Linked DNA regions of Homo sapiens. The protein of the gene in region 1 interacts with the protein of each later gene in a pairwise test. Each region holds a gene or a part of one and is shown on either strand. Other genes may lie near its edges.

Evidence for each region.
Region 2: the proteins of ASZ1 (region 1) and LPAR3 interact in binary tests that used the Homo sapiens proteins (3 or more experiments, as listed by UniProt).

What each region holds. Positions count from the first base shown.
Region 1 is NC_000007.14:117,362,502-117,365,716, forward strand, and holds the end of ASZ1 (ankyrin repeat, SAM and basic leucine zipper domain-containing protein 1), read right to left. Parts: intron 1,248-3,215; coding exon 1,095-1,247; 3' UTR 721-1,094; downstream 1-720. UniProt on the Homo sapiens protein: Plays a central role during spermatogenesis by repressing transposable elements and preventing their mobilization, which is essential for the germline integrity.
Region 2 is NC_000001.11:84,813,202-84,817,030, reverse strand, and holds part of LPAR3 (lysophosphatidic acid receptor 3), read left to right. Parts: intron 1-2,859; coding exon 2,860-3,185; 3' UTR 3,186-3,829. UniProt on the Homo sapiens protein: Receptor for lysophosphatidic acid (LPA), a mediator of diverse cellular activities. May play a role in the development of ovarian cancer. Seems to be coupled to the G(i)/G(o) and G(q) families of heteromeric G proteins.

The DNA.
Region 1 (3,215 bases):
AACACTGTATGTGTTAAAAGAAGTACCTTTAGAACTTCTAAGACTCATTTAAATGAGGAAATATCAGCAAAAAAATATGCCTTGCTATTTAGCAGTTAGGTTAAAATATGGCCAATTCTCAAGAAAAGAATGATTGAAATCTTGTAGTTTTGGTATAAGCAAGAGCAGAAACTGCTACTAATTATAGATCCTTATAATGTTCTTCCTTTCCACAATTCTTTATCTGTGCTTTGTTTACTTCTCAAACAACTGTAGATCAACTGCATCTGTTTAAGTATGGCACTAAGTCAGGCAAGATTTAAGTACTATATTCTCTGCTAAATTGGGCCTGCCATTTTATTAACTTCACTTTAAAAATCTGAAAATCATTAGTTTGATTTTGAAAAATAAATCTTACTTTAGATATGATAAATAATATGTCAAATGCCATTCACTTTTATAATATTCCTAAGAATGTTATATAGTATGTATGTTCCCCAAAGTATTTTACATAAAAAATTCCAATGTACTTTGTACTTTCAACACCAGTCTCTAATTTTTTGCTGTTTTAATTTGTATTTAAAATACTTTTCCTAAGGATTTAATCCACAATTCAAAACTTTAACATTTTACCTTTATCCTTTGTATTCTCTCAGATACTTTCAAAATTAATAATTTCCTCATAATGTAATATAACAAAAAAATCCAATAAAAATCCATATTATGTAATAATGGAGGGGGAAAAAAGAAACAAAAGAAAGCTCAATTTATGAACACTTTACAAATCCTGTACGATTCACTGACAAATGAACACACTTTAAAAAATGTCAAAGATATTAGATATAACTTTAATTTTGAATGTGATTTAGATACGATCAAACCAAAAAATTACTTATACTTTACTACCTAATCACAATTAACATAAACATAACAAATTGTATTTATAAGTCAAAGTAACAAACCACTTTTTAAAAAAAAACTCCACATTGTCAAAATTTTTCCTATGGAATATTGGCAAAGAATGTAAAGTTATATTGTGCTGCAAACAGTTAAAAGCAATGATTTTTGGATGGTTCAATAAGATGTGTATATATAACTTAAAACAAATATTTGGATTATTTCCTCTGGAAAGTTAGCTTGCAAATGAAAAGAAGAAAACCGAATCCGCATATGGTAATAGCTGTCCTCTTCAAAATTCTACTATTCCATGTAGATACTTCTTCCCTTAATTGTATATGAGTTGGATCATTTTCCCGTTCATTTTGCAACTAATATTTAGTATGGAAAAAGAAAAGAGGAGTTACTGTACAATACATTAATAAAACATTTTGATTTTAAAAAATATCATAATATCCATGTTAATTCATTTCACTTGATTTAGATGTAGGCAACTCAAGATTCCCATGGAAGATTTAAAGTAAACATATATGTCTGAAAGACAGTCTTTCATTAGAATCCCATTACTGTAAATCATTAGTTTTACATTAAAAATACATGCTTTCATAGATGATCACATTTTAAAATGGTGTTTTTAATGTCACGAGACAAAGTAACTTTAAATTTAAAGTTTCTGTTTTACTTATAAGGAATGACAATTGATATTGATTTGCTTGTGCATTAAATATCAATTAACGTCTTACAAAAAAGTGAATCATTATTATAGCAAACCTAAAACATGAAATTTAGCAAAAACGAGAAGATCAGATGCTACTGGTAGAAACTTAATTTATTTAAATAGAATTGCAGTAACAAATGTCAACAAAAACTTAAGTGGTTCTTTTAGTAATTCTCAGCAATGAAAGTACAGTACCCAGTCAGTTTCTAACTTCCCAGATGCAAATTTCTTGCTTAAGAAGCTCCCTTCTCCCCTACCTACTGTGTGTGTGTGCCCACTCTGTGTGTATCTGTGTGTGTGTGTTTCTGTGAGAGACAGAGAGACAGAGAGAGAGAGAGAGAGAGAGAGAAGGGGGAAGTGAGAGAGAGAGAAAAGACTTAAAGAGGGAGGGCTGAGAGGAGAGGGATGGCTTTTGGGGGTGGGGCAGGAGAGAAAATAAGCAGAAACCAAAGATCCTTGAAAGATAAAAAGAATCAGGCACATTTATAGAGTGATATTTACTAGAAACATCCTGTGCTGGAGTGATGACATAAATACTTTCAACATCAGCAGGAATAATGACTTCCAAATTCTACAGTGTAAATATTTAATTAAAAAGCTTGCAAAATTAATTTTAAATTTATAGCAGAAAACCAGACTCCAATGCCAATCTCATTAATACCATATTCTTGGTCTGACTTCCAAATGGCTTCATTCAGCAACAGATTCCTTTTTGACACTGATGCTCCATTTACTGAATCCTGAGACAGTCATTCCTTTTATTAATCAATTACTTAGAATGACCCTTTCTGACAGGAGCCTGTCAGTGTGTTGGCTTGAAAGAGAGTGATGTGGTGTTAAAGTCTAGCCTTGACCTCTCCCACCCTCTCTCTGTTACCTCCATACACTTATCTGTGATAACTTATGTTTCTTAAAAAAAAATCCCTTCAATTATTATTGGTAAACTCTGAAATAATATAAGCTTAACAGGCATGATAGCATATTTCCAAATCTGGAAGCCTTCATAATTCCCTAAATCAAATCTCATTATGATGATTACTACTTGTACAAGACTAATCTGAAAAAACCAACCCACTAGCTTGCTCCAAAATTTAAGACTTTCTTGCCCAAAGAACTGTATTTGCCATTATTATAAACTAATACATGTTTTCAAGGGTAGTTCTTATATAGAAATGCATAAATTCTAAATAGAGAAGGGTCACGGGAAAAAGGTCTTCTATTTAGCCAAAGAACAATGAAAATTCTCTTAACAGGTATGCATTATTAAAATAAATATGGTACCTGATTGAATTGTGTATACTTTAGAGTCAGTTTCTATAGCAAAGTTTCTTAATTTCACTCATTTAACAAAAATATGGTTTTCTAATTTCATTTTAATTCTATACACACACCCTTACCCCTCACCCCCATGTTTTTAGTTCATCTTGGAGAAACCAAATTAGTAAATAACCCTGAAGCAAATAGCTTTTAGGAAATTTCCTACACTAAACATTAAAGGCTGATGTTTTGCAAGAAGTATCTTTATACATATGCTTCTAAACTTCCCTGGGATACCCATGAAAAATGGCATGTTTAAGTAGGATCAGTTCCTTTCCTTTGATTCTTCTAGATGAGATATAAT
Region 2 (3,829 bases), on another chromosome or scaffold:
AGTAGATAAAATTCAATATGTGTCTCCTGGAGAAAAGGCTAAAGAAAGACAGAAAGCGTTAACTGTCTTCAAAAACCTGAAGGGCATCACATAGAGAAAGCACAGACTTTTCCTGGGCTATTGCAGAGGATCACACAAAACAAATGGAAGAGTACAACAGGCAGAGTTTGGATGCAAGCCTTCTTTTCAAGTAAATGAAGATATTTATATATTTTTTTGCTTTTTACTTTTTTGGAGATGGAGTCTTGCTCTATTGCCCAGGCTGGAGTGCAGTGGCACAATCTCGGTTCACTGCAACTTCGCCTCCTGGGTTCAAACAATCCTCCTGCCTCAGTCTTCCAAGCAGCTGGGACTACAGGTGCCTGCCACCATGCCCAGCTAATTTTTTGCATTTTAGTAGAGACAGGGTTTCACCATGTTGGCCAGGCTGGTCTCGAACTCCTGACCTGGGTGATCCACCCACCTCAGCCTCCCAAAGTGCTGGAATTATAGATGTGAGCCACCACGCCCAGCCTAAATGAAGTTATTTAAGAGAAGAAACCATTGTTCAGCAGTTGAAGAGCCTCCCTTGACCAGGGCATTTCCTTTGCCTGGATTGTTCTGAGATGTACAAAGGGAAGGCCTTTTTCCTATGAATGAAAGATCAGGCTAAGCGGCTTCTGAACTCTTTTCCAAGTAGGAAACTGCCGAATTCTGTGAAACTGTGGCTTTTAACTCTCCATAAAACTCAAACAAATTTGACTTGTTTGTTTCTCAGACACAATTATCGGGTGGTATGGCTAAAAACTTACTAATATGAATTCTCAAGTTGGTAGTTGCAAACTTGGCTGCCCATCCAGTTCCTTCACTTGTTTCAAACCAGTCTGAATAAAACAAAAAACCAGTCTGAATCTGTCACATTGATTGCACACCCACTAACAAGTTCTGACCCACCACTAGAAAAACTCAGACCTAGCCTAAAGTCAGTCCTCAGTTTACAGCTGAGGAAGCTGAGCCCAGCGCAATGACATGGGTCTCCCAGAGTTGTACAGTAAGTGAAGAATTAGAACCCAAATCTCTGATCTCTTATCTCCAAGTCCAGTTCTTTATTCACATATATCAGCCAGACCGAAAATAATAATACAAGGTGGAGAAAAAAGGGAACCACTGCTGAACCGTAATTATGAAATAAGGAATTCAACCCCCCTGCTAGCTACTAAACATATAGATATTTTTTGTGGAAACAGAGCACCTCATGATAACTGCTGCTCAGTGAACCCACCACAGTGTTGGGTACCACTTTCCATGACCTCTGATCCTCACAACTACCACCTCACATAGTTGGGTTTATTAACTTTATTGTATAAAGGAGGGAATGGAGGCTGAGAAAAGTGAAGTAATTCCCATAATTCGGGTCACTCATAGGTTGAGCTGTGCATACATGTCTGACCCCAAAGTTCGTGGCTCTTCCCTGCCTTACACTGCCTCTTTATAATCCTTGTCTTTCCCTGCTTGGTATTATATCTCTTAGAAGTAAGATAAAGCAACAAGAGAAATACTATGCAGAACTAATTCTAACAAGTAGAGTAGTTGGTGATATCATCTATAGACTTGCTTGTTTGTCGTCTTCTCTGTTAGTATTTTAGCTCCCTGAGTGCGTGGCCTTCACCTCACTCACTGTCTAGTACAGCTCCTGGCACATTGTTAGCTTCAGATGAATATTTATGAGTGGACAAGCAAGTGCATTTAGAAATGACAAGGACATTCGCCGAAAGCAACCACATCATACTACAGAGGCGGGTCATATAGTGGCCCAGGGCACAGCCTGTGGAGAAAGACGGCCTCTGTTCAAAATCGTGTCTCTTAAGAGTTATTTGATCATAGGCAAGTTACTTAACTTCTCTTGTGCCTCGGTTTCCTGGGGATAATAATAATGCCAATGTCATAGTGTGGTCCTGTGAGTTAATCAAGGAAAGCGTTTGCACCAGTGCCTCGCTTATAGTAAGTGCTGTATAAAGATGAGTCGTTATTGCTATCTGAGGTTATGATAATAGTAGGGAAATAGTGGACCCATGTCTTAATGGGAGAAAAATATCATGAAATTTAGAGATAAGGTAAGTATGATGCTGTGGCTAGAGACTCAGAAGAGACTACGGTTCATATTCAATTGCAGAGTCTGAAAAGTAGATTTTTAACTATCTCATCATGAAAGATTTATTTCTGACCAAAAAATCTAAATGTAGAGCAGATGATTATGCAGATGGCCCGTGAATATGTCAAAAAGAATATAGTGCTTACTAAGCATCCACATGAATTTATGAAGAATGAAATTTATGAGCAGGTGATTTGGTTAAACTACTAGAAGAATGCCGTAGACTCATTGTGTCTTATTTTCAAGAGCACATTTAGAAAATCTGATTTCTGTAACAGCAGAATGTAGGGTGAAGTATGGGAGCCCTGGAGTCAGAGAGTTCTCCTCTCATCTCCCCCTAGAATTGGGCCTTGGTTTTCTTATCTGTCCAATGTGGATAATGAGTGCAACAAAGCCTCCCAGTGTGGTTCAGAGAACTAACGGAGATCATGCATGTGCACTGCCTCCTAAGCAGAATGTAAATGTGAGTCTCTCATAATCACAAGACCTGGGTAAGCAGAAAAGAAAGTGAAATGAAATGTGATTGATAGTCAAGGAGGTTCCCACCTATTTGCCTGTACCAAGCGTAGGTCTCAAATGCTCAGATGGTAGGTGGAAGTTTGCCTTGCAGTTGTCAAAACAAATCATGAGGGCCCCTTGATGCCACTGGCTAAAGGCTGGGAGAGAAGAAAACCTGAATAAGTCCCCTAAGGTCTGAGCATCTGTTGCCTCCTCTTCTCTCCTTGCAGGGGCGTTTGTGGTATGCTGGACCCCGGGCCTGGTGGTTCTGCTCCTCGACGGCCTGAACTGCAGGCAGTGTGGCGTGCAGCATGTGAAAAGGTGGTTCCTGCTGCTGGCGCTGCTCAACTCCGTCGTGAACCCCATCATCTACTCCTACAAGGACGAGGACATGTATGGCACCATGAAGAAGATGATCTGCTGCTTCTCTCAGGAGAACCCAGAGAGGCGTCCCTCTCGCATCCCCTCCACAGTCCTCAGCAGGAGTGACACAGGCAGCCAGTACATAGAGGATAGTATTAGCCAAGGTGCAGTCTGCAATAAAAGCACTTCCTAAACTCTGGATGCCTCTCGGCCCACCCAGGCCTCCTCTGGGAAAAGAGCTGTTAAGAATGATTACCTGTCTCTAACAAAGCCCATGTACAGTGTTATTTGAGGTCTCCATTAATCACTGCTAGATTTCTTTAAAAAATTTTTTTTCATAGTTTAAAAGCATGGGCAGTAAAGAGAGGACCTGCTGCATTTAGAGAAAGCACAGAAACGGGAGAGGTTCGGCGGGTCCCTGCTTGTCCTATGAACTGCTCAGAGCTCCTGTCAGTCCAGCTGGGCCTTCTGGGTTCTGGCACCATTTCGTAGCCATTCTCTTTGTATTTTAAAAGGACGTTATGAAAGGGCTTAGACCAAAATAAATCATAATGTTACTTGAGCCACCTTATATAGCTGCTTGGAGAGTCTATGTAGTTCTTTCTGCATGCATTAAAAATGTTTAGAAATGCTTCAGCAATGGTGTTTTTTTCCTCAAAGAAACCATGGCCAGTAGCTAGGTGTTCAGTAGGAATCAAAGAAAAATCAGTAAGAGCTCCAGATTAAACCTGATTTTTAACTGAAGGAACATTCTGAGGAAAAATACTTAAAAGTAAAAAAGGTCAATGTGAAAACCCTTTTTGACCTGAAAAAGGCCTTAGTATGGTCCTCCATGCA